Regions from separate parts of the Homo sapiens genome. Here region 2 is linked to region 1. Evidence: fine-mapped QTL for protein levels in blood plasma. A gene starts in region 1. The other region holds a variant in brackets. All regions are shown on one strand. Distances are from middle to middle.

Region 1 (8,000 bases):
CTGATTACAGTTTTATACATTCATTGTAGGAAATTCAGAAAAATGAGATTTTCTTTTTCTTTTTTTTTTCATATGGAGTCTCACTCTGTCTCCCAGGCTGGAGTGCAGTGGTGCCATCTTGGCTCACTGCAACCTCCGCCTCCCGAGTTCAAGCGATTCTTCTGCCTCAGCCTCCCGAGTACCTGGGACTACAGGTGCGTGTCACCACGCCCGGCTAACGGTTGTATTTTTAGTAGAGATGGGGTTTCACCATGTTGGCCAGGCTGGTCTCGAACTCCTGACCTCAGGTGATCCACCCGCCTCGGCCTCCCAAAGTGCTGGGATTATAGGCATGAGCCACCACGCCCGGCCAAAAAAAAATGAGAATTTAAAAAATGAAAATGAAAATTATCTGGACTCTTAGCATTTATAACTGTTAATAATTTGCCCCCTTTAGTTTTTTTTTTCCATATATAGATATTTGTTTTACAAAACATGGGTCATATTTGTACAGTAAGATTGATATTGGCCCATGATTCAACAAGCATGTTTTTTGTTTGTTTGTTTGTTTGTTTGAGACAGGGTCTCTGTCGCCCAGGCTGGAGTGCAATGGCTCGATCTTGGCTCACTGCAATCTCCACCTCCCAGGTTCAAGCGATTCTCCCACCTCTGCCTCCCAGGTAGCTGGGACTACAGGCACATGCCACCATGTCCAGCTAATTTTTGTGTTTTTAGTAGAGGCGGGCTGTCACCATGTTGTCTAGGCTGGTCTTGCACTCCTCACCTCAAATGTTCCACCTGCCTCAGCCTCCCAAAGTGCTGGGATTATAGGTGTGAGCCACCACAGCCGGCCCAGCAAGCATGTTTGAGTCTTTGTCAGGTGCCCGACTGGACATCGGAAAAGAGGAGAAGGAGAACAGGCTTTGGGCTGTGGCCGTAACGGTGACCACCTGGAATTGTCACTAGTGAGATACTAACACTTCATTCTGAGGGGTGGCCAGGTGTTGCCTGGTGAATACTGTGGGCCTGTGCTATTTTCCCTCAGGGGCGGGACATAGCTCAGAGGGCGTTCTGTCTAGGCTGGGTGCCTGGTGGACACAGCCCTCAATCTTTGCCCCTTGCAGATGATGTGCCTTTTGAGAGGCACCAGGTGACTGCTCACAGTATGCAAGCGCATTATCTAAAAGCACTCCCTCATTTGGAAACACTTCAATGAAAAAGTGAAATTTTGTTCACAATCCACTCCCATTAATTTCAGAATTTTCAAGGCTGGGCACCGTGGCTCACCCCTGTAATCCCAGCACTTTGGGAGGCCTAGGCAAATAGGATCAATTGAGCCCAGGAGTTCAAGACCTGCCTGGGCAACATAGAGAGATCTCATCTCTATTAAAAAAAAAAAAAAAAGAAAGAAAGAAAAGAAAAAAAGTCATTTTTAATTTAAAAAATTTTCAACATTATATTCATAAATAAAAAGAGCTGTTAGATTTTTTTAACACTAACTGTTGTAAATTTCAGCATGTAAAAAATGGTTTAAAAATTCTATTACTGGCCGGGCACAGTAGCTCATGCCTGTAATCCTAGCACTTTGGGAAGCCAAGACAGGTGGATTCCTTGGGGCCAGGAGTTCAAAACCAGCCTGGCCAACATGGTGAAACCCCGTCTCTACTAAAAATATAAAATATTAGCTGGGCTTGGTGGTGGGTGCCTGTAATCCCAGCTACTTGGGAGGCTGAGGCAGGTGAATCGCTTGAACCTGGGAGGCAGAGGTTGCAGTGAGCCGAGATCGCACCACTGCACTTCAGCCTGGGCAACAAGAGCAAAACTCCGTCTTAAAAAAAAAATTGTATTACCTACTCATGCAAAGTTTCTCTCTCTCTCTCTCTCTTTCTTTCTCTCTCTCTCTCTCTGTCTCTCTCTCTCTCTCAGACAGGTCTTACTCTACCACCCAGGCTAGAGTGCAGTGGCATGATCATGGCTCACTGCAGCCTCCACCTCCCGGGCCCAAGTGATCCCAAATAGCTGGGACTACAGGTGCATACTACCACACCTGGCTAGTTGTTTTTTATTTTATTTTTATTTTTTATTTTATCTTTTTTTGTACACAAGGTTTTGCCATGTTGCCCAAGCTGGTCTCAAACTCCTGGGCTCAAGTGATGCGTCTGCCTCTGCCTCCCAAAGTGCTGGGATTACAGGTGTGAGCCACCGCGCCCAGCCCCAGAGTTTCTTGTTGATGGAGACTATTAAGAATTTTGAACTTTTTCTTTCTTGAGGAGAGCTCGATGGAATAAGAACATTAAAAAAAAAAAAAAACAAAAACAAAACCAGCTGGGTGTGGTGGCTCATGCCTGTAATCCCAGCACTTCGGGAGGCCGAGGTGGGAGGATCGTCTGAGGCTAGGAGTTCACAACCAGCCTAGCCAACATGGAGAAACCCTGTCTCTACTAAAAATACAAAAAATTAGCCAGGTGCAGTGGTGGGCGCCTGTAATCCCAGCTACTCAGGAGGCTGAGGCAGGGGAATCACTTGAACCCAGGAGGCAGGGACTGCAGTGAGCCGAGATCATGCCATTGCACTCCAGCCTGGGAAACAAGAATGAAACTCCATCTCAAAAAAAAAAAAAGTTTTTAAAATATAAAATTAAAAAAAGTTTAATTACACAAAATTTTTGACCTTATTTCTCTGAAATGTGTCACATAAAGTGGTCAAAACAGATGTGACAACAAAGCCAACCTTCTAGTCACCACCACCAGGTCAGGAAGTGTAGCGCCCCGTGATCTATTTGCAGGGTTGCCATTGTATATGTAAAACCCGTATTCTCTGTACCAAGTCAAGTTGTTCAGTAGGAATGTTAAAGATTTTTATACTTTTCTTTAAAAAACGTATTTTCCTTTATAACTTTTTAAAAATAACATTTTAACCCAGGTCCCCCGCATGCCCTGCACTCGCATGCCAAAGGCTGGTCCCTGGGTCTCAGACAACCATAGTCCAGCGGGGTCACTGACCTGCCCCAGTCATCAGCCCATGGTGGGTCAGAGCAGCGTCGTTCTCAAGTGGGGACAGACCCGTGTTTACAAGATTCTCAACGCCTGGCTGATGTAACAGCGGCATCAGCCTTCCTTGGGGAGAATGACGACTGTATTTGTTTTTACCCTCTTGTTAAAAATGCTGATTTAATTTTCAAGCTTCTTTTCCTTCTTTCCTTTCTTTTTTCCTCCCCCTCTCCCTCCTTCTTCTTCGTTTATTTTTAGAGCCAGGGTCTCACTCTGTCGCCCAGGCTGGAGTGCAGTGGCCTGACCATGGCTCGTTGCAGCCTCGACCTCCCGGGCTCAAGCCATCCTCCTACTTCAGCCTCCTGAGTAGCTGGGACTACAGACGAGCGCCACTATGCCTGGCTGATTTTTTAAAAGTTTTTGTAGAGACAGTCTAACTATGTTGCCCAGTCTGGTCTCGAACTCCTGGGCTCAAAAGATCCTGCCACCAACACCTAAGTGTTGGGATTGCGGATGTGAGTCTCCGCGCCAGGTTTCTTCTCTTTTCTTGTGCGTTTCACGCAAAAAAACCCGAGTCCCTGAAGCTACGCTGCTTTCCTGCCTCTAGGGAAAACGGGAGTTTTTTCTGCTCGTTTGCTCTCTCTCTTTTTTGTTTGCTTATTTGTTTTTAGTATTTTTAGCATGTTTTGGAAACATTTCGTTCCAATGAGTGTTTGAAAAGCAGCTCCCCCGCCCCACGCTCCGGGCGGGCGCCTCCCACTCCCTGACCCCGGGGAGGGTGGGCACCACTCCCAGACGCGGGGGACGCGTGGGTGTCGCTCGGGGGCGCTCGCCTCCCCCACCCAGCCTGTCCCGGGCCGCGAGCGCTTCCAGTCGGGTTACTTCTGGGGGACAAGAAAGGCACCGTCTGAACGGTCGAGACGCTTTTTCCCGCTACGGTTTTCCCCGGAGCTGACAGGGGCAGCAAGGTCGGAGTTGATCCGAGGGTCCCTGCCTGGTCCCGGGGGGACGGTCAGCCTCCCGCCCGGAGCCGCGGGGAGAGGAAGCAGGTCGGGGTCTCCGGGACGCGCAGACACCCAGACACCGGCGGCCTCCTCCCACCAGGCTGGCAGTCGCTGAGCCCTGGCGCCTCCTTAAAGCCGCAGCTCCGCCCCGACCGCCCCGCCCGCCAGTCCGTCCTCAGACCCTCCCAACCGCCGGGTCCCCGCCGCCTCGGCGGAGTGTTGTAGAGCCTCGAGCCTGCGAGGAGCGCGCCGCCCGCCAGCTCCCTGCGTCCCGTCCCGCGTCCCCGCGTTCCCGCGTCCTGCGATCCGCCGCCATGGCCAGTGAGGAGCTGGCGTGCAAGCTGGAGCGCCGGCTGCGGCGCGAGGAGGCCGAGGAGAGTGGCCCCCAGCTGGCTCCCCTCGGCGCCCCAGCCCCGGAGCCCAAGCCCGAGCCCGAGCCTCCCGCCCGTGCGCCCACGGCCAGCGCCGACGCGGAGCTGAGCGCCCAGCTGAGCCGGCGGCTGGACATCAACGAGGGCGCTGCGCGGCCCCGGCGCTGCAGGGTCTTCAACCCCTACACGGAGTTCCCGGAGTTCAGCCGCCGCCTCATCAAGGACCTGGAGAGCATGTTCAAACTGTGAGCTCCCGCTGCGCGCCCTTCGCCCCCGGGACCAGGGAGGGAGCGGGAGGGCTTTCTGGTCCGAAGTCCCGGGCCCTGTTTGTGTGGGGAGGGGTCCCGGGGTGCAGGTAGCATTTGGCCCAACGCAGCCAGATCTTGCGTGCTCGGGTCTATCTCGGCGCGGTGGGGGACGGGGCCGAAGAGGGGGGACACCAGGAGCAGGAGCTCTCCGGGACGGAGCCCAAAAGTTCTCGGCGGCTGCCGGGCCCGAGTTCCAGGTCCCCCAACCCCGACCACTGGTCCCGCCCCCTCCGCCCGCCAGTCCGGAGATTTGCTCCGAAAGCAACTTCTAGGAAAGGGAGCCGTCGCCGCGCCTCACCTGCCAGCTTTCACTGTATCCCCCCAAGGGAAAAATTAGCCCCTGTTGGCCTTTTATCTTTTAAAACAAAAGGGGAAAGTTAATCCTTGGCTGCAGCGCGGGGTCTGATGAATGAGCGGAGGCCGAGAACGGGGAGTTTGGTAAAGTCGTTGTAAGAGATTCAGGACTTTCCTGGAGCAGGCGCGGCCCGGGAGCCTCCTGGGGGCGCGGGGAGGGGGGGCGGTTGTGGGAACCGAACTTGGCCGCTGGCACCGGTCCGGCGGGGGCTCGTTGCGGTCCTGCTCTGTGAGCCCCAGTGCGCGGGGAGCCGCTCACCTGGGGAGACACTGAGCCAGAGGCAGGCGATAGAGACCCACTAGTCCACCTCGTCGCCTGGAACCTCCGGGGATCTCAGTTTCCTCATCTGGAGAGTGGGAGCAGTAACAGTCCCTGCCTTTTAAGGCCGAAAAGTATTTTGCACCCGGTAAGCTCTTAACCGAGCTATTAATATTTCCAGAATTGAGCCGAGACCGGAAAAATGCCTGGGGGAGCTGAGGCCGCCGGCCAGGTCATGCTTGGGCGTTTTTAAAAGCGCATGGAATGTGTTTGCCCTCCGCGTGGAGGTTCTATTTAAAGGCGCTGTGACTGGCGCTGCGTCGCCTGAGCCTCCGCTGCCCCTGCATGGAGGTTTGCAGAGCCGGCACTTGGGAGCCTCCGCCTCCTCTGCCTCCCTGACACCCTGGTTTCTTTGTCTGGCTTCCAGGCACTGATCTGTGGCGTTTTCTGGGTCTAGTTTGGGCAGTTCAGGAAGGCCCAGTGCGCTAAAGAATGCGGCTGGGGCGAAAATGGAAAAGCAATGGGTGAGGCAAGGTTTGTTGGAGCCCTTTGATTTCTCTGGGGTAATGCCTTTCATGGGAAGACTGCCCTGGCCGGGCTGCTCCCAGACCCCACCAGTTCCTCCCAGTCCAGCTGGATTCAGGGGATCTTGGGGAGGGACCTTTATCTTCAAGTTTTCTTGTGGCCACTCAGGCTTCTTTTGTTTTTCCTATAAAACAATCTTTGGAAAGATCAACTTGTAGTTGACTACCTAAGAGTGATAAAAAGAGTCCATATGCTCAGAGGGTCTTGGGAGACGAAGCAAGGTGGCATCTGTGAGCAAACAGGTACTGGACCAGGATCACGCAAAGGGGAGCCGGGCACAGTGGCTTACGGCTGTAATCCCAGCACTCTGGGAGGACGAGGCAGGCGGATCACCTGGGGTCAGGAGTTCAAGACCAGCCTGGCCAACATGGTGAAACCCCATCTCTACTAAAAATCCAAGAATTAGCCGGGAGTGGTGGCGCGGGCCTGTAGTCCCAGCTACTCGGGAGGCTGAGGTGGGAGAATTGCTTGAACCTGGGAGGCAAAGGTTGCAGTGAGCAGAGATCACACCATTGCACTCCAGCCAGGGTGACAGAGGGAGATTCTGTCTCAAGGGGAAAAAAAAAAAGCCAAGGGGAAGGCAGTGTGTGGCCTGGGATCCCAGCAGAGCTAACAGTTCAACCAGTACTTGGTATTTCTTTCTAGGTTGAGTTTTCTGTCACTTGCAACCAAAATTGGCATAAACAAAACGAGAATAATTTGGCTGAGGAAACCAAAAAGCCATCACTAGCTTCAGGTGTGGCTGGATCTAGGCGCTTAGGTGCTGCCATCAGTGCTTAGTTTCTCTTTTTGTTAAGCCACCTTCCTCTCTGCGTTGTCCCCGTTCTCAGATGGCTCATCCTTGGTGGTGGTGGTATGGCCACAACAGCTTAAATTAATAACATAAGAATGTTAAAAACACTAAAGAAAATGTAACACACCAATTTGTTTTCTATTGGATTACCTTCCAGATTTTACTCATGGCAGCAGCAGTCTTGTGAGGCTGTGAAGAGTGAGCACTTGGAGGCAGGCTTCCTGGGTTCAAACCCCAGCCCCACCACTTGCTCCCTGGAAGGTTCCTTGGGCAGCTTATTTAAAAGCTCTGTGCCATCAGTTTTCCCTTCTGTCAAATGGGAAAGCACAGGACCTGCCATGTGGGGTTATTGTGGGGATTAAATTAATTCATGTATGTGATGCATTTAGCTCCATGTTTCAGCCTATGGTGAAGGCCAGGTGGATTTTAGCCCCTAATTTTTAGATTATCACATATCCATAATTTGGGTAAATGTGCACATTTGGCTGGGTGTGGTGGCTCACACCTGTAATCGCAGCACTTTGGGAGGCTGAGGCAGGCGGATCATGAGGTCAGGAGTTCGAGGCCAGCCTGATCAACGTGGTGAAACCCCGTCTCTACTAAAAATACAAAAATTAGCCAGGCATGGTGCCACACGCCTGTAATCCAGCTACTCAGGAGGCTGAGGCAGGAGAATCGCTTGAACCTGGGAGGTGGAGGTTGCAGTGAGCCGAGATCACGCCATTGCACTCTAGCCTGGGCAACAGAGTGCGACTCCGTCTCAAAAAAATAAAAAAAGTACACATTTTGTGTTGTCCTTTTTTGTTTAATAATTCACTTTGCTGAGTCCACTTTATCTTTTGAACCTGATTTAGCCCACAGTTTGAGCTGTGGAGTGGTGACCTGGCCTCTTGGTGAGTTCCGGGTCCCCGTGGGACTGTGTGCTTTGCCCTTCCGGGTTCTGCGGAAGGAACTCGTTAGCTCCTCTGCTGCTGGGTGAGGTCGTTTGTTTCTTAGAGCTGCCTGAATGAAATGCCACAAAGTGGGTAGCATAAAACAACAGAAGTATATCCTCTCATAGTTCTGGAAATCAGAAGTCTGACAAGTCTGAAACCAACGTGTCAGCCGGGCTGTGCTGCCCTTGAGGCGCCAGCGAAGACTCCTTCTGTGCCTGTTTCCTGGCTTCTGGTGGTTGCCAGAATTCTTGGTATTTCTTGTGGTATGGGCGCATCACCGTAATCTCTGCCACCCTGAGCACCTGGTGCTCTCCCTGTGTGTGTTTCTGTGTCTTCACATGGCCTTCCTTTTTTTTTTTTTTTTTTGAGATGGAGTCTCACTCCATTGCCCAGGCTGGAGTGCAGTGGTGCGATCTTGGCTC
Region 2 (8,000 bases), 26 kb after region 1:
TTTCTTTTTTAAGAGATAGATCTCACTGTGTTGCCCAGGCTGGACTTGACCTGCTGGGCTCAAGCAGTCCTCCTGCCTCAGCCTCTGGAGTAGCTAGGATTACAGGTTCAAGCCACTGTACCTGCCCTTAGTGGTCATTTAACTGGGCCACCCCTTCTAAGGCTGACTTGACCAGAGAAGTGCTTCTCAGAGGGTTTCCTTGAAAAACCGCATTGCCAAGGTACGTCTTCTCAACAGAAAATCCCCAAATGCAGAGGACTGTGTGGTCAGATGAGTCTGTGTGCTCTGTTTCCCTCTTGTAAGTTTTGGACACATACGGAAGGCTCTGGAAAGTTCCACACTGAACCTGTTAACTTTGACTGGGACTCCGTGTAACAGAGACTGTCCCTCCCAGCCGGTTTGTGCAAGCTCTCTTTACTTCTCAGGTCTAGTTCCAGTTGGCCGTTTTGCCAGAAGGCACTTCCTTGCACTTAGCTAAAGTCTGTCTCACCCATTTCCATGCACAGAGCCCAGTTCTGGCAGCCTTTGGGCCCCTGGGCAACATCTGAAGGCAGCTCTTTGCCAGATCCCACTTGTTCCTTCCACCCCTGTCCTGTCCTTGTGTGGGGTCTTTTTTTTTTTTTTTTTTTTTTGAGTCGGAATCTTGCTCTGTCACCCAGGCTGGAGTGCAGTGGCACGACCTCGGCTTACTGCAAGCTCCGCCTCCTGGGTTCACGCCATTCTCCTGCCTCAGCTTCCCGAGTAGCTGGGACTACAGGCGCCTGCCACCATGCCCGGCTCTTTTTTTGTATTTTTAGTAGAGATGGGGTTTCACTGTGTTAGCCAGGATGGTCTTGATCTCCTGACCGCGTGATCCACCCACCTCGGCCTCCCAAAGTGCTGGGATTACAGGCGTGAGCCACCGTGCCCGGCCTGTGTGGGGTCTTAAGTCCATTCGTCTTCTTGGCTGCTTCCCACTGACCAGGCCCATGGCCTCCCTGAAGTGTGAGGTCTGTGTGGAGTGGGGCAGACCATGATGAGGTGGGTAGGACTGTGGCCCTTGCATTCAGGATTCAGGACTTTTTGTACTTGCCACTATGATTTATTTCGCCCATGAGTTTTCTGGCAGCCTCCCTGACTCACTGTAGGGTCCCAGTCCCCTGAAGGTGTGGTCACAGTTGCAAGTGAGCGCCATTTCTCTCAAAACCTGTGCTGGGAAAGTCAGTCTGTGGGGGTCTTAGTTTTAGGACCTTGCTTTTTTTTTTTTTTTTTAATTGTTTTGGGACAGAGTCTCACTCTGTCACCCAGGCTGGAGTGCAGTTGTATGAGCACAGCTCATTGCAGCCTCGACCTCCCAGGCTTGAAATGATCCCCCTGCCTCAGCCTTCTGAGGAGCTGGAACCACAGGCACATGCCACTATGCCTTGCTAATTTTTTTATATTTTTGAAGAGACAGGGTCTCACTATGTTGCCCAGGCTTGTCTTGAACTCCTGGGCTCAAACAGTCCTCCCACCTCAGCCTCCCAAAGTGCTGGGATTGGAGGCATGCACCACTGCTCCCAGCCAGTACCTTGCATTTTTTAAAAATTGTGGTGAGATATACATAATGTGAAATTTAGCAGTTTTGTTTTGTTTGAGACAGGGTCGCATGCTGTCACCTAGGCTGGAGTGATCACAGCTCACTGTAGCCTCAAACTCTTGTGCTCAAGTGATCCTCCCCCTTCAGCCTCCCGAGTAGCTGGGACCGCAGATGTGGGCCACCACATTCAGGTACTTTCTTAATTTTTTTGTAGAGATGGGGTCTTGTTTTGTTGCCCAGGCTGGTCTGAAACTCCTAGGCTCAAGTGATTCTCCTGCCTGGGCCTGCCAGAGTGCTGGGATAACAGGCAAGCCTGACTGCACCCAGCAAAATTCACCATTTTTAACCATTTTTAAGTATAGAGTTCAGTGGCAACAACATTGACATTATTATGCAACCATCACTGTCATCCATTTCCAGAATGTCTTCACCCTCCTAAACTGAAACTCTGTCCCCATTCAACACTAACTCCCCATTCACCTCCCCAGCCCTTGACAGTCACCATTCTACTTCTGTCTCGATGATTTTGACTACTCTAGGGACCTGATAAGTGAATTCATACAATGAGGTGCCCTTTTTGCGACTGGCTTATTTCACTTGGCACAATGTCTTCAAGGTTCACCCATGTTGTAGCCTGTGAGCATGGGTCAGAGTTCACTTCCCTTTCATTGCTGAATGAAATTCCATTGTTTGTATAGATCACATTTTGTCAATGGGCATTTGAGTTGTTTCTACCTTTTGGTGACTGTGAATAATGCTGCTAAGAATACTAGTGTCAGCCAGGCATGGTGGCTCACGCCTGTAATCCCTGCATTTTGGGAGACCGAGGCAGGCGGATCACCTGAGGTCAGGAGTTCGAGACCCACCTGGCCAACATGATGAAACCCTGTCTCTACTAAAAATACAAAAAATTAGCCGGCCATGGTGGTGGGCGCCTGTAATCCCAGCTACTCGGGAGGCCTGAGGCAGGAGAATCACTTGAACCCGGGAGGTGGAGGTTGCAGTGAGCTGAGATCGCACCACTGCACTCCAGCCTGGGCAACAAGAATGAAACTCCATCTCAAAAAAAAAAAAAGAATACTAGTGTCCAGACTCCATTGGATCCTATGGTAATTCTTTGTTTAGGACCTTGCATTTTTCTTTCTTTTCTTTTTTTTTTTTTTTTTTTGAGACTGAGTTTCACTCTGTCACTCAGGCTGGAGTGCAGTGGTGCGATCTCGGCTCACTGCAACCTCTGCCTCCCAGGTTCAACAGATTCTTCTGCCTCAGCCTCCTGAGTAGCTGAGATTACAGGCATGCGCCACCATGCCTGGCTAATTTTTTTGTATTTTTAGTAGAGACGGGGTTTCACCATGTTGGTCAGGCTGGTCTCGAACTCCTGACCTCAGATGATCCACCCACCTCGGCCTCACAAAGTGCTGGGATTATAGGCATGAGCCACTGCACCCAGCCAGGACCTTGCATTTTTCTTTGCTATATTTTATCTGTGGACATCACACCAGCTTGCTGAGATCTTTTGGGCCTAGATTCTGCCCCAACTTTGTGTCACCAGCGAATCTGAGAGTCAGCACCCTTTCCAGGTGGCTTTAACTAACAGCCAGTCCGCCTAATTGTATCCATACTTCTCTTCCCCATAAGAGCCTGCCTGCTAGAGGGCGTTGCTCACCCTGAGTGGTAACATCAGGTCAGCTGTGGTTTTCTGTTAGATCAACTTGACAGTAACGTTTCACAACTAAATAAGCATGTGACCCAGCATCCAATCTTGGGTATATACACGAAAAAATGGAAATATATGTCCAAACACTTGTATATGAACGTTCAAAGCAACACTATTCATAAGAGCCAAAAGGTGGAAACAACAAAATGTCCATCACCTGATGAGTGAAGAAACGAAGTGTGGTATATTGATACAGTGGAATATTGTTGGGCTACAAAATGTCCACAAGAGGCAAATCCATACAGACAGAAAGGCTAGTAGTTGCTGGGGGATAGGGGTGGCAAGGGGAGAGTGGGGAATGACTGC[T/C]AATGGGTATCAGTTTCTTTTTAGGGTGAGGCAAACGTTCTGGAATTACATGGTAATGATGTTGGCACAACCTGAATATACTAAAAATTAATGCACTGTACAGTGAATTTTATGGTATGTTAATTATATCTCAGTAAAGCTGTTTTTTAAAAAAAACTTAGAAAACAGGGAAGTGAGGTCCATCCTCAAGTCATTTTCAGTGAACCCATGGAAATTGTTGCTTCCCTTCTTAAAGTGCTCACAAACCGTCCTCTGGCAACACTAGATCCTGGGCTGGTGCATCTGTGATTCACATACTCTGCCCACTTCTGGGAAACCCAGAAGCACCTTGCTTGTTTCCAGATCTGGAACACCTGTCTCATCCTTCACGGTTCCTCAAAGCTCACCAACAGCCACCCAGCGATCTTGTCTGTGTCCTTTAGTGCTTTGCAATGTAGCTCTGCCAGCAAGGAGGCTGCACTGAGCACAGAGCTGCTTGAGTAAGAAGTAGCCAGCATACTGTTAAAGTGAGGGCACTGAGAAAAAAAAAAACACAAGAAATAAAAATAGAAGCACCCACCAGAGGAAGGTGGTGAATGCTAAGTCCCGGAGAAGGATGGACAGTGGGTGCTATTGGAGAGCTGTGGGGGAAGCAGGTGGCTCCCTGAGCTCCTGGGCACAGGAGGACCATAGAGGAGGGCAGGGAGGGGGTGGCTGGGTGAGAGGAATGGCACAAGTTGGCCACTGTGGCTGGAAGGGAGCCTGTCAGGGATTCCTGGGCCTCCTCTCCAGCCTGACCTTGGGAGCCTTAACTACTGCCAGTCCACAGCACTAGATTCCTAGGTGCCCACAGGCTACATTTCTTGGCAGGTAGTGGTTGTTCTCAATAATGGTGGGTTTTTGTTACTGAGGCTGTGTTGGGGAGAATGCAGACGGGTAATGAGTGGATGAGTCAGTTCTCAAACAGCAATAAAGAAAAACCTGAGACTAACTAATTTATAAGAAAAGTGGCTTAATTGGCTCATGCACAGTTCTGCAGGCTGTACCGGAAGCATGGCAGCGTGTGCTTGGCTTCTGGGGAGGCCTCAGGAAACTTACAACCATGGCAGAAGGTGAAGGGGGAGCAGTACTTCACATGGCCGGAACAGGAGCAAGACAGAGCAAGCGGGGAAGTGCTGCACACTTTTGAACAACCAGGTCTTGCAAGAACTCACTCACTATCACAAGAATGGCACCAAGGGGATGGTGCAGAACCATTTGTGAGAAATCCACCCCCATGATCCAACCGCCTCCCACTAAGTCCCACCTCCAACACTGGGGACTACAGTTCGACATGAGATTTGGTGGGGATGCAGATCCAAACCAGATCAGTGAGGAAGCCTGATTTACTTATTTTAATTTTTAAATTTGTGTTATTTATTTATTTTATTTTATTTTATTTATTTATTTATTTTTTTTTTGAGGCGGAATCTTGCTCTGTCACCCAGGCTGGAGTGCAGTGGCACGACCTCGGCTTACTGCAAGCTCCGCCTCCTGGGTTCATGCCATTCTCCTGCCTCAGCCTCCCAAGTAGCTGGGACTACAGGTGCCTGCCACCACGCCCGGCTCATTTTTTGTATTTTTAGTAGAGATGGGATTTCACCGTGTTAGCCAGGATGGTCTCGATCTTGTTCTCCTGACCTCGTGATCCACCCGCCTTGGCCTCCCAAAGTATTGGGATTACAGGTGTGAGCCACTGCGCCAGGCCTCTTTATTTTTTTAAGAGATGGGGTCTCACTACATTGCCCAGGCTGAATGCAATCAAACTCCTGGGCTCAAGTGACCATCCCACCCCAGTCTCCCAAGTAGCTGGGACTACGGGTGGGCATATGATACTATACCCAGCCTTATTTATTTAATTTTTTACAAATTGTGGTAAAATGCACTTAACATAAAATTGACCAGGCCAGGTGTAGTGGCTCATGTCTGTAATCCCAAGACTCTAGGAGGCCAAGGCGGGCGGATCATGTGAGGTCAGGTGTTCGAGACCAGCCTGGCCAACATGGTGAAACCCCGTCTCTACTAAAAATACAAAAATTAGCTGTGTGTGGTGGCACACACTTGTAATCCCAGCTACTTGGGAGACTGAGGCAGGAGAATCGCTTAAACCCAGGAGGCAGAGGTCGCAGTGAGCCGAGATTGTGCCACTGCACTCCAGCCTGGGTGACAGAGCCAGACTCCGTCTCAAAAACAAAACAAAACAAAAATTAGCTGGGTGTGGTGGCGCACACCTGTAATTCCAGCTACTTGGGAGGCTGAGGCACTAGAAACGCTTGAACCTGAGAGGCGGAGGTTGCAGTGAGCAGAGATCGTGCAGCTTCACTCCAGCCTGAGTGAAAGAACATGACTCTGTCTCAAAAAAAAAACAAAAACAAAAAAACAAAACCTCTGACCACTTTAACCAAGTAAGTGGACATCATTAAGTACATTCACATTATCGTGCTGCCATCACCACCATCCATCGCCAGAACCTTTTTCTCATCTCAAGTTGAATCTCTATCCATTGAACACTAACTCCCATGCCCCTCTCTCCCAGCCCCTGGCAACCAATCATCCACTTTCTGTCTCTATGAATTTGACTACTGTAAGAACATCGCAGAAGTGGCACCATACAGCATTTGCCTTTCTGTGGCTGGCTTGTTTCACTTAGCAGAATGCCCTCAAGGTTCACCCGTGTATAAGCCTTCCCTTCCTTTTTATTGCCAAATAATATTCCCTTGTATAAACATACTATATTTCATTGTATGGATATACGGCTATACCCCCACCACCACCCCTTTTTTTTTTTTTTTTTTGAGACAGTCTCGCTCTGTCACCCAGCCTGGAGTGCAGTGGTGCAATCTCAGCTCACTGCCACCTCCGCCTCCCAGTAGCTCTCCCACCTCAGCCTCTCGAGTAGCTGGGATTACAGGCGTGCACCACCATGCCCAGCTAATTTTTGTATTTTTAGTAGAAACAGGGTTTCACCATGTTTGCCAGGCTGGTCTACGAACTCTTGACCTCAGGTGATCCGCCCGCCTCGGCCTCCTGAAGTGCTGGAATTACAGGCATGAGCCACCACGCCTGGCTGGATATACCCCGTTTCGTTTCTCCTTTCATCTGTCCGCAGACACCCGCGTTGTTTCCACCTTTTGGCTGTTGTAAACTGATTTGTTTTTAGAGCAAGGTATTCATACCTGAGCAACAAGGGGTCTCTGGGTGGCGGGAAATGCTTGAAGGGAGGAGAGCCAGGGGGTCTGTGGAGAAATCCTGTAATGGGGGAAGTGGCTTGGAGGAAGCAGAGCACACAGGGCTGAAGATGGCTGGGCCAGGAGGGGACAGGCCCAGTCCCACCTGGTGAAGCTGGGTTTGTTTCCTGGCTGGGGGCTGGGGGGCCAGTCAGCAGAGGGGTGGCCCTGTTAGAGGACAGAGTCAGAGCCCTCTTGGTAGACACGGCCGTTCAGAGCTGGAGACAAGACGAGCGAACCAGAGGGGAATCATGAGCCAGAGTCATGATTCCGCACACAGGGGTGGGAAGCAACTTCCCTAGACCTGGGACGGAAAGGCGGGCTGTTGGGAATGGCTGTGGGAGAGAACCAGGGGCAGTGACCAGGAGGAGGCTCCTGGAATTGCCAGCCCTTCCCTGTGAACGTGCTGGGCGTCAGGGGCCAGCTCCTGCAACCCCTCCAGTGTCCAGCATTAGGAGGAGGTGCTCGCTTGATGTTTGTTGACTGAAACTGGGGGAAATAAAGGTAAACAAAGCATGTTTCTCACCCTCCAGAAATTATGGTTTAGTTGAGGAGATAAAAGACATGAAAACCAACAGGTAGTACAAGATCTGCTTTGAGTCATACAAAGCCCTGAAGCGCTCTGAGGAGAGAGGGGTTCCTCTGGAGCAGGTGACCCACATTGGCCTCGCAGAGCGGGAGGTATTTGAGTCATTTTTCGATGAATGAAGCCAAAGGAATTACATGTTTCGGAGACTAACGAGTGTCCTTTCATCCCGGTCATGCATTCCTTTGACCCTGCAGGTATGACGCTGGGCGGGATGGCTTCATCGACCTGATGGAGCTGAAGCTGATGATGGAGAAGCTGGGGGCCCCCCAGACCCACCTGGGCCTGAAGAGCATGATCAAGGAGGTGGATGAGGACTTCGATGGCAAGCTCAGCTTCCGGGAGGTACCTGCCTGCTGTGGCCCTGAGCCCCTGTGGGGTGCCCCTGAGAGGACCTTCAGGTGTACAGCCCACTGGAGCACAAATGGGTTTGGCCTCTCCAGAGCGCTGTTTGCGTATCTAACCTGCAATTCCGCTTTCAAAAATACCTTTTAGGTGACAGCTAACCCCAGTGCTGGCCTGGAAAAAGCAGCATGGGTAGTAGTATAACCTCATTTGAGTAAAATAATAAGAAATTTGGCGATGTTC

Direction of the effects. Positions count from the first base shown, and alleles are read on the strand shown. Strength reflects both the effect of a copy and how common the allele is.
For the plasma level of the protein whose gene starts at base 4,187 in region 1, T is the low allele of the variant in region 2 and C is the other (moderate association).

Evidence for each region. PIP is the posterior inclusion probability: the model's chance that the variant is causal. The UK Biobank Pharma Proteomics Project read protein levels with antibody pairs (Olink). The fine-mapping took linkage between variants from a reference panel, not from the people measured, so its PIPs are less certain.
Region 2: its variant is fine-mapped to the plasma level of the EFHD1 protein (UK Biobank, PIP 0.97).

The regions. Positions count from the first base shown.
Region 1 is chr2:232,629,418-232,637,417 of GRCh38, forward strand. EFHD1 (EF-hand domain family member D1) reads left to right here and starts at 4,187. Exons shown (of 4, transcript NM_025202.4): 1 at 4,187-4,589. The coding sequence starts at 4,288. RefSeq lists silencers at 4,225-4,284, 4,362-4,656.
Region 2 is chr2:232,655,193-232,663,192 of GRCh38, forward strand. It overlaps EFHD1 (EF-hand domain family member D1), which reads left to right. Exons shown (of 4, transcript NM_025202.4): 2 at 7,610-7,757. Among named protein-coding and RNA genes, the nearest start is that of EFHD1, 26 kb to the left of the region's middle. RefSeq lists an enhancer at 6,903-7,402. The variant T/C (reference allele first, on the strand shown) is at 3,582.